Regions from separate parts of the Homo sapiens genome. Here region 1 is linked to region 2. The links come from fine-mapping of genetic effects on gene expression. A gene starts in region 2. The other region holds a variant in brackets. All regions are shown on one strand. Distances are from middle to middle. Region 1 overlaps ADISSP (adipose secreted signaling protein). Region 2 holds the start of CENPB (centromere protein B).

The links. PIP is the estimated chance that this variant, and not a neighbour inherited with it, causes the effect. A credible set is the group of variants that fine-mapping cannot tell apart.
Region 1: its variant is the best candidate, but not a certain one, in a credible set for the expression of CENPB in whole blood (INTERVAL, PIP 0.60).

What each region holds. Positions count from the first base shown.
Region 1 is chr20:3,759,841-3,765,090 of GRCh38, reverse strand. ADISSP (adipose secreted signaling protein) reads left to right here. Exons shown (of 6, transcript NM_001258429.2): 2 at 4,905-5,009. The coding sequence starts at 4,991. Among named protein-coding and RNA genes, the nearest start is that of ADISSP, 5.3 kb to the left of the region's middle. The variant A/G (reference allele first, on the strand shown) is at 3,118.
Region 2 is chr20:3,784,233-3,789,709 of GRCh38, reverse strand. CENPB (centromere protein B) reads left to right here and starts at 2,970. Exons shown (of 1, transcript NM_001810.6): 1 at 2,970-5,477. The coding sequence starts at 3,227. The coding sequence ends at 5,026. It also overlaps a transcript of CDC25B not described here. RefSeq lists a silencer at 2,669-3,018 and enhancers at 2,854-3,563, 3,459-3,598, 3,564-4,274.

The sequences.
Region 1 (5,250 bases), 25 kb after region 2:
TCTATGTTGTCACTATCCAGAGGGTTACAGGCCCTCAGTGTTTGCCCTTTACTGAGTACTGGCACTGCATGAGATGTGGGTCCTACCCTCAGTGGGCATGGGGCATGTCCCTCTCAAAGCAGGCATGGACAGGTAACCAGCTGACTGCAGCAAGGCCTGAGGAGTCCCAGTGGGAGGCCACTTGGTGGGGGCCAGGGAGAGGGAAGTGCCCCCCAGGGCAGGGGTGAGGCAAAAGAGTGGGGTGGGGAGTTCTGCTTCCTCAGAGCCCCCAGTGCAGTCACTGGCCCTGACCATATCATTTAGGGCTGAAGTACGGGCCTTGGCCAGGCCCTCCAAGCAAATGTGATGTGGTCATTCATTCAACAAACATAAACCAAACACAGCTCCTCCCTGTCTGGTGCTGCGCTGAGTGCCGGGGACACAGGGTTTGACAAAAACACAGTCACTACCCTTGTAAGGTGAGGAAGAGGGATATCAAATGATCCCAGACATGAGAAAGGGGATTCCAAAAAGAGCTGTAGTCCTGTCCTGGGATTTGCAGGGTGTGCATCCTTAAAAAAGAAATGTTGGGGCTGAGACCCTGTCGAAGGTGTGGCTGGGAGGGACGGGATTGTTCCTGGCTGAAGGGATGACCTGGGCAAAGGCAGGGCGGGGGGACGGTCAGGCAGTAGGTTGGGAGGAAGACAGGGAGGGTGCCCTGCATGGACCAGTTCAGAGTGTTTTGTGAAAAGGGCCTGCAGCCTTTGCTCACCAGCCACTGGTGCAGTTTAACCAGAGCCTTCAGGAAGCATCCTGGGAGATGGGGGGACCTTGAGGACACTGGGCTGTCACTGCCTCCTGGCTGCAGAGGTGTGGCTGGAGCAGCCTCTGCAGGATAGGAGGGCCTCACACTCTTGTGCTTGGCCATTTGTCATATACTCTGAGTTCACAGCTTTGGGGGCAGCTGTAGTCGGGGGGCGGTTACGGCAGGCTGCTCTCCAAGACCAAGTTCCCTGGGGACAAGCTGAGCTTTCCAGGGCTGAGGCAACTGACCCCACAGTGGCCCTGGCCAGAGGTGAATGGGTGTAGCTCCACTTCCTGCACCCTGGGCTGGGGCCTGGAAGCTCACCTCCAAGAGGGGGTTGCTGGCCTGGTCCATTGGCCAAAGGGGGCTCCTGGTGGTACCCAAACTGTGAACACCCTGCCCATGAGGCAGGGCTTGGGCCTGGGTGGACTTTGCCCACATTGAGAAGTGGGGAGCGAGGTGAGGCCACATCTGCTCCCAGAGCAGCTTGGCACCAGAGGGACCTTGAGATCATGCCCTCCACAGGCCCAGCCCTAAACTATGAGGCCACCCTGTAGTTCCTCTTCTGTCCCTGGACTGATGAGCCAGTGTCACTCATCTCTAAGTTGTTCAGTATGTTTCCCTGACAAAATAAGGACATAATTCTTTACATAATACAATTCCATGATCAACTCATTTCTTAGTGTTACCTCATATCCAGGCCATTTACATTTTCCAGATCCCCCAAATGTCTTTTTTTTTTTTTTTTTGAGACGGAGTTTTGCTCCTTTTGCCCAGGCTAGAGTGCAGTGGCGCAATCTCGGCTCACCGCAACCTCCGCCTCCTGGGTTCAAGCGATTCTCCTGCCTCAGCCTCCCGAGTAGCTGGATTACAGGCATGCGCCACCACGCCTGGCTAATTTTGTATTTTTTAGTAGAGACAGGGTTTCTCCATGTTGGCCAGGCTGGTCTTGAACTCCCGACCTCAGGTGATCCGCCCGCCTCAGCCTCCCACAGTGCTGTGATTACAGGCGTGAGCCACCTCACCCGGCCTTTTTTTTTTTTTTTTTTTTGAGACAGAGTCTCGCTCTGTCACCCAGGCTGGAGTGCAGTGGCGGGATCTTGGCTCACTGCAACCTCCGCCTCCCAGGTTCAAGCGATTCTCCTGCCTCAGCCTCCTGAGTAGCTGGGATTACAGGTGCACACCACCATGCCTAGCTGATTTTTGTATTTTTAGTAGAGATGGGGTTTCGCCATGTTGGCCAGGCTGGTCCCAAACTCCTGACCTCAGGTGATCTACCCGCCTTGGCTTCCCAAAGTGCTGGGATTACAGGTGTGAGCCGCAGCGCCCGGCACCCCCCAAAATGTCTTCTTTGATAGGTAGTTCGAAACACCCTCTCCTTTATTTTTCTTCTTGCAGCTGATGTGGTGAAAAAAACAGGTCAGTTGTCCTGAAGATTATCCTTTTTTGGTCTGTTAAGTGTGTGTTGATCTAGAACAAGGGTTGGCAAACTTTTGCTCTGAAGGGCCAAATAATAAATGGTTTAGACTTTGCAGGCCATATGGTCTCTATCATAACTACTTGGAAGTAACTTTGTTTTAGTGCAAAAACAGACAACATGTAAGTGAATGAAGTGTAGTGTTCTATTAGTAAAACTTTATTTGCAAAAATTTATTTGCCAGGCCTGGCGGCTCACGTCTGTAATCCCAGCACTTTGGGAGGCTGAGGTGGGTGGATCGCTTAAGCTCCGGAGTTTGAGACCAGCCTGGGCAACTCTGTCTCTACAAAAATTAGCCGGGCATGGTGGTGCGTGGCTGTGGTCTCAGCTACTTGGCAGGCTGGGGTGGGAGGATTGCTTGAGCCTGGGAGATTACGGTGGCAGTGAGCTGGACTCCAGCCTGGGCTGGACAGAGTGAGACCCTGTCTCAAAAACAAAAACAAAAACACAACAGGCAGCAACCTTACCATCAGCTGTGTAATCAGCTGTAGTTTGCTGCTTTCCTATCTAGAATAATCTCCCTCGTTTTATTTTTCTTCTTTCTTTTTTTTTTTTCTTGAGACAGAGTCTCGCTGTGTCACCCAGGCTGAAGTGCCGTGGCGCGATCTTGGCTCACTGCAACCTCCGCCTTCCGGATTCAAGTGATTCTCCTGCCTCAACCTCCCAACTAGCTGGGACTACAGCTGCCCGCCACCACACCCGGCTAATCTTTGTACTTTTGGTAGAGACTGGGTTTCACTATGTTGGCCAGGCTGGTCTTGAACTCCTTACCTTGTGATCCGTGAAAGTGCTGGGATTACAGGCGTGAGCCACCGTTCCCAGCCTGCTTTCTTTTTCTTCTTGACATTTGAAAACA[A/G]AAACAAAAACAAAAAACAGGTCAGTCATCCTGTAGAATATCCTGCCTTCTGGGCTCGTCTCATTGCTTTCTCATGGAGTCATTAAATTTGTTCCCCTCTCCTCTGTGTTTTTAGCAAATGAGAAGTTGAAGTTAGAGGCTGGTTTAGATTCCAGGTTAAACCTTTTTGGCAGGAATCCCTTGTCAGTGATGCTGTGACTTTGGGCTGCCTTACTTCAGGAGGCATCAGTGTGACAGGCTGTCCTGCAGAGAGTAGAGAGATAGACCAGTGTGTGACTGGGAGAAGTCACATACCTCCATTGCAAACTTGTGCCATTCCTCTTAAACACCAGGTCCTCGGCCAGGCATGGTGGCTCACACCTGTAATCCCAACACTTTGGGAGGCCGAAGTGAGCGGATTGCTTGAGGTCAGGAGTTCGAGACCAGCCTGGCCAACATGGTGAAACCCTGTCTCTACTAAAAATACAAAAATTAGCTAGGCGTGGTGGCGGGCGCCTGTAGTCCCAGCTACTCGGGATGCTGAGGTGGGAGAGTCGCTCGAACCCAGGAGGCAGATGTTGCAGTTAGCCGAGATCGTGCCATTGCATCCCAGCCTGGGTGACAAGAGTGAAACTCCGTCTCAGAAAAAAAAAAAAAACAAAAACCATACCAGGTCCTCTGTCAGTGACGCTTGGGCGCCTGTGAGTATCTGCTTCCTGTCAACCTTCCCCTCTGGTTTAGCATCCACTGGTTCTTGTTGCCTCCAGCATTTGTTCCTTTAGGGGTTGCAGAATGACTTAGCATTTGGTCATTTCTTTGTTATTTATTAGCAAGAATTCTTTCCGAAAGAAGAGCTTTCCATCAACCACCAGGGCAATTTGGTTACAAGAAAGGCCAAGAGACAGGCTGAATTCTTCCTCTTTAATCCTCAGCTTTCAGAGTAAAGAGGGCACTGCTACCGTCAGTGGTGACAAATGAGGGCTTTTGAGGGCTTGGGTTTGTTTGTTTTGCTTTCTCTCTTCTTTTCTAATAATCTCTGTGAATGCACTGCTTTTATGTGTTCCATCTGTTTCCATCAGTTGCACTCATTATTCTTTTTGATGCTCAGATGGTCCCAGCTCGGCCCATTGGAGGCTTCCTGGGGCGCCTCTCACTGCCCCTGTGCTGAGGCTGCCGTTGGGGAGCTGAGGCGGAGGCAGGCCTGAGACTCAGGGCAGGGTCTGAATGGGGTTCAGGTGGGGGCACACCCCCTCCACAGGCATCTGTTTTGCATATGGCCCTGACCGATCACCAGGAGGGAAAGCTCTAAGGGCACGCTTACTTTATGTGGTCCCCTGTTCTTGCCCACCATCGAGCACCCTGTTGCCTCTGACCGCACCCAGCTGCATTGCTTGTGTGACCTGAATAAGGTAGCTCCAGGCCCAGCCTTTGGGGTCAGCAGCACCAGAACTGGTCCCTGGAAAATACCAATAAAGTCCTCCTTTCCAGGCTGCCCCTCCTGCCAGTCTCTGGGGGTGCTGGGGATAGGAGTCCTATGCTGTTGCTTTGGCACCTAGAAGCTGCAGCTCAGCACATGCTGGCAGGACCCTGAGTCACTGGGGTATCAGGAAGGGGTGAGGGCTCTTGGTGAATGTGGGCAGTCGGTAGAGGGTGGGCAGAAGCCCCCGTGCTAGAGAGTACAGGCACCACTTGGGCTGCTGAGAGCGGTAGGGGTTTGAGTCCTTCCTAAAGGGAGCTCCTCTGGTGTCCCTGAGCCATGGGTCCATGAGTGGCCCTGACCCCTGCCCTCCCCACTCCCTATCCTTCAGGCTCCCGCTGGTGTCCCTGGAGCATGGGAGGCTGCTGAGCGTGAGTGGCGGTGTCTGGCAGGAGCTGCGTGGCAGGGAGGGCGTCCATGGCTGCAGCCAACAAGGGTAAGTGCCTTCCTGGCGTGGTAGGACTTGCACAAGCTCTTCCGGTGGGCCCTGGTAGGAGGGCCATTGCTGCAGGTAGGGCCCGCACCACCTGTGTGTGTGTGTGTGCATGTGTGAGTGCGTGTGTGCTGGTGTGCGAATGTGATTGGGACTATGTCAGTGTTTGTGCCAGGTTCTGGGGCTCACGCAAGCCCTAGCAGGACCCCTGCAGAGCCCTGCTGACTCCTTAGGCTGGTCTGTG
Region 2 (5,477 bases):
TGTTGTTCTCTTTATTTTTATTATTTATTATTATTTTTTGGCCGGGTGAGGTGGCTCACGGCTGCAATCCTAGTACTTTGGGAGGCCAAGGTAGGCAGATCACTTGAGGTCAGGAGTTTGAGACTAGCCTGGCCAACATGGTGAAACCCTGTCTGTACTAAAAATACAAAACTAAGCCAGGTATGGTGGTGTACACCTGTGATCCCAGCTACTCAGGAGGCTGAAGCAGGAGAATTGCTTGAACCAGGGAGGAGGAGGTTGCAGTGAGCTGAGATCACGCCACTGCACTCCCAGCCTGGGCAACACAGTGAGACTCCGTCTCAAAAAAAAAAATTAAAAATTAGCCAGGCATGGTGCCTCATGCCTGTAGTCCTAGCTACTGAGGAGACTGAGGCTGCAATGAACTATGATCGTGCAACTGTACTCCGTCCTGGGTGACAGAGCTAGACCCTGTCTCAAATAAACAAAAGGAGAATGGAAAGCTTGCTGAGGGGCCTGAAGGACAGCTCTGGGCAGGCTGGACCAAAAGAAGAGAAGGTGAGTTATGGATTTCCCAAACAGTCCTAAAAGCAGAAAGCTGGGACTTACAGAAAGAGGTGGGGAAGCCCGGGGCCTCAGATGGATTGCTGGGGGAAATGGTCACTTGAGAGGGGATGGAAATGGGCCCCGTGCACTGCTACAGGCAAAGGGTAGACGAGGTATCTGGAAATGGCTATGACATCAGCATATGATGGGCGTGGCTTTTCTGTCCTAGAAGTAATTGTGCCAATGCCCTTTGTATGGCACTAAGGAGGGGCCACAGGAAAGGAAAGGAAAGGAAGAGAAAGGAAGGAAGGAAAGAAAGAAGGAAAGGAAGGAAAAGAGAGAAAGAGAAAGAAAGAAGGGAAGGAAGGAAGGAAAGAAAGAAGGAAAGGAAGGAAAAGAGAGAAAGAGAAAGAAAGAAGGGAAGGAAGGAAGGAAAGAAACAAGGAAAAGGATGAAAGAGAGGAAAGAAAGAAAAGATGCATGGCAAGGAGTTCTCATCCAGGTAATCTTAGATTCATTTTTGCCCAGTGACCACACACTCCTCTTGGGCCAAGCAGTGCTCTGGAAAAGTCTCCCACGTGTTCTTTTGGACCTTGAGATTAAAAGAATATCTTTTATATCTCAGGGATAGGGAAGTCCTCTCTAAGTAAGACACAAAACCCCGAAGCAATAAGGAAAAAATTGACAGGTTGAAGATTAAAAACTTCTCATATCCAAAAGATTCCCTAAACTAACTTAGACAAGTGGCAGACAGGGAGAAAACATTTGCAACATACTTAACAAGATCTTTTCTTCAGAGCATGTAAAGAGCTCCTAAAAGTCAAGAAAAAGACAAACACATGGTCAAAGGATATGACTAGAAAATTCACAGGATTCAAATGGCCAAGAAACATACGAAAACAGAAATTTGCACTAAAACAGCAGTGAGTTACACTTTCTTCCTTTGGCTTCCAGAATGCCACAGTAGCCTGGTTTTTCTCCTGCTTCAGGGGCTCCTCCACTTCAAGAGTCTCTATTTGGTTCTTTCTTTCTTTCTTTCTTTTTTTTTGAGATGGAGTCTCACTCTTTTGCCCAGGCTGGAGTGCAGTGGCATGATCTTGGCTCCCTGCAACCTCTGCCTCCCAGGCTCAAGCGATTCTCCTGCCTCAGCCTCCCGAATAGCTGGGACTACAGGTGAGTGCCACCACACTTGGCTAATTTTTTGTATTTTTAGTAGAGACGGAGTTTCACTATATTGGCCAGGCTGGTCTTGAACTCCTGATCTCAAGTGGTCCCGCCTGCTTCGGCCTCCTAAAGTGCTGGGATTACAGACGTGAGCCACTGCACCTGGCCTCTTTCTTGAGCCCTTAACCTTGGAGGACCCAGGGCACTGTCCTTGGTCCTCTTTTCTTCTTTGTCTACACTCACCCACAGCTTCATCCAGCCCCAGGTCCTCAGCCTGTCCCCCTGGGTCACAGCCTTCCCCTCTGCCAATGCTGGAGTTCCCCTTAGTGCTGCCCTAAGAGATTTTTAAAAACACAGCTATACATTCATTGTTTTAAGAGCTTGGCATTTTAATGTTTTGCTGCAGGAGAGGGAGGCTTCAGGGATTCACACTTATGTATATACATGATGTTATTTCTGTAAGTGCAAACACATACATTTATGGCTATATGCATGGAAAAGCCCAGAAAGTGACACACCAAGATGTTATGAGTGTTTATCTATGGGTTGTGGGATTACTAGAACTTTAAAAATGTCATTAGCACCATCAAATAGATTTACAACTGTAATGCTGATTTTAAAAATAACTTAAGTGTGTAACAATAGGTTACATACGCTAGTGTTCATTCATAGCTGGAATGCTACACAATCATTAAAAAGCGTGTTGGCAATGATACTTACCGATATGGCAAAATTCTCACTACTTGATGCCAGGTAAAACAGCAGGAGATGCCAGATATACAGTCTATACAGTCTGATGCCAGTTTTATATAATAAATTTTTAAAAAGAAAACGACATGCATCTAGAGAAAAGACTGGAAGGAAATGTATCAAAATGTTACCTGTGCATCTCTCCAGGTGACGTGAAAAGCGTTTTTCAACTTCTTGAATTTTTCAGGTTCCGCAAAAAAAAAAGTGCGTTATTTTTACCTTAATTAAAAAAAAAAAAAACAAACAAAAACCCTGGTTCTTATTCTTTTTGAGCAGCAAGTCGCTGTCCGCCGGGCGCAGTAGCGATGCACCGCGTCCCCGCCCGCGTCGCTGCCGGGTCGCCGGAGGCCGCAGCACGGGCAGGTCCAGCAGGCCGCAGCGCCCCCCCGCGGTATGTCCCGGCGGCGGGAAGGGGGTGGGCGCGGAGGGCGGGGAGGAGGCGCCGGGCGTCCCCGCGCTTCCCGCGAGATCCCGCTCCGCCCGCTCCGCCCCGCTCGCCGCGCTCCCAGCTCCCCGCGCCGCGGCACTTCCTGCCTTCCGCGCCCGCGCCGCCCGCCCTCGTCTGCGCCCGTCGCCTGCCGCCCGCCGCCCGGCGACGCGCCCGCCGGCGTCCCCGGAGGTGCCCCCGGCCCGGCCGGGTCGTCGCCCCGCCGCCGCGCCCGCGAGCCGCTTTGTCTCGGGCGGGGCGCGCGGGAGAGGCCGCCAGGTGCCCCCCGCCACGGGCCCGGGCCCCCCGCCCCGGGGCGGCGGCGGCGGCGCCGGGCCCCGGGGCGGGGGGCGCGCCGGGATGGGCCCCAAGAGGCGACAGCTGACGTTCCGGGAGAAGTCACGGATCATCCAGGAGGTGGAGGAGAATCCGGACCTGCGCAAGGGCGAGATCGCGCGGCGCTTCAACATCCCGCCGTCCACGCTGAGCACGATCCTGAAGAACAAGCGCGCCATCCTGGCGTCGGAGCGCAAGTACGGGGTGGCCTCCACCTGCCGCAAGACCAACAAGCTGTCTCCCTACGACAAGCTCGAGGGCTTGCTCATCGCCTGGTTCCAGCAGATCCGCGCCGCCGGCCTGCCGGTCAAGGGCATCATCCTCAAGGAGAAGGCGCTGCGCATAGCCGAGGAGCTGGGCATGGACGACTTCACCGCCTCCAACGGCTGGCTGGACCGCTTCCGCCGGCGCCACGGCGTGGTGTCCTGCAGCGGCGTGGCCCGCGCCCGCGCGCGAAACGCTGCCCCCCGCACCCCGGCGGCGCCTGCCAGTCCGGCCGCGGTGCCCTCGGAGGGCAGTGGCGGGAGCACTACTGGTTGGCGCGCTCGGGAGGAGCAGCCGCCGTCGGTGGCCGAGGGCTACGCCTCGCAGGACGTGTTCAGCGCCACCGAGACCAGTCTATGGTACGACTTCCTGCCCGACCAGGCCGCGGGGCTGTGCGGAGGCGACGGACGGCCGCGTCAAGCCACCCAGCGCCTGAGCGTCCTGCTATGCGCCAATGCCGACGGCAGCGAGAAGCTGCCCCCGCTGGTGGCCGGCAAGTCGGCCAAGCCCCGCGCAGGCCAAGCCGGCCTGCCCTGCGACTACACCGCCAACTCCAAGGGTGGTGTCACCACCCAGGCCCTGGCCAAGTACTTGAAGGCCTTGGACACCCGAATGGCTGCAGAGTCTCGCCGGGTCCTGCTGTTGGCCGGCCGCTTGGCTGCCCAGTCCTTGGACACCTCGGGCCTGCGGCATGTGCAGCTGGCCTTCTTCCCTCCCGGCACCGTGCATCCGCTGGAGAGGGGAGTGGTCCAGCAGGTGAAGGGCCACTACCGCCAGGCCATGCTGCTCAAGGCCATGGCCGCGCTAGAGGGCCAGGATCCCTCAGGCCTGCAGCTGGGTCTCACGGAGGCCCTGCACTTTGTGGCTGCCGCCTGGCAGGCAGTGGAGCCTTCGGACATAGCCGCCTGCTTTCGTGAGGCTGGCTTTGGGGGTGGCCCTAATGCCACCATCACCACTTCCCTCAAGAGTGAGGGAGAGGAAGAGGAGGAGGAGGAGGAAGAAGAGGAGGAGGAAGAGGGTGAAGGAGAGGAAGAGGAGGAGGAAGGGGAGGAGGAGGAGGAGGAAGGGGGGGAAGGAGAGGAATTGGGGGAGGAAGAGGAGGTGGAGGAGGAGGGTGATGTTGATAGTGATGAAGAAGAGGAGGAAGATGAGGAGAGCTCCTCGGAGGGCTTGGAGGCTGAGGACTGGGCCCAGGGAGTAGTGGAGGCCGGTGGCAGCTTCGGGGCTTATGGTGCCCAGGAGGAAGCCCAGTGCCCTACTCTGCATTTCCTGGAAGGTGGGGAGGACTCTGATTCAGACAGTGAGGAAGAGGACGATGAGGAAGAGGATGATGAAGATGAAGACGACGATGATGATGAGGAGGATGGTGATGAGGTGCCTGTACCCAGCTTTGGGGAGGCCATGGCTTACTTTGCCATGGTCAAGAGGTACCTGACCTCCTTCCCCATTGATGACCGCGTGCAGAGCCACATCCTCCACTTGGAACACGATCTGGTTCATGTGACCAGGAAGAACCACGCCAGGCAGGCGGGAGTTCGAGGTCTTGGACATCAAAGCTGAGTCACTGGACCTAGCTGTGCCCCCAACCTAGATTGGCAGCACCACCCCAGGGCAGAGGACTCTCTGGGCACCCGCTGTGCATGGAGCCAGAGTGCAGAGCCCCAGATCCTTTAGTAATGCTTCCCCTGGTCCTGCAACAGGCCCGGTCACCTCGGCCGGGCCCGGGGCTGAGGTCAGCCTCACTGCCTGCTTATTGCCTCTTTCTCAGAATCCTCTTTCCTCCCCATTTGGCCCTGGGCTCAGGGGACCAGGTGGGGCGGGTGGGGAGCTGTCCGGTGCTACCACACCGTGCCCTCAGTGGACTAACCACAGCAGCAGCCAGGGATGGGCCCTGGAGGTTCCCGGCCGGAGAGTGCCTCTCCCCTCTGCCATCCACGTCAGGTCTTTGGTGGGGGGACCCCAAAGCCATTCTGGGAAGGGCTCCAGAAGAAGGTCCAGCCTAGGCCCCCTG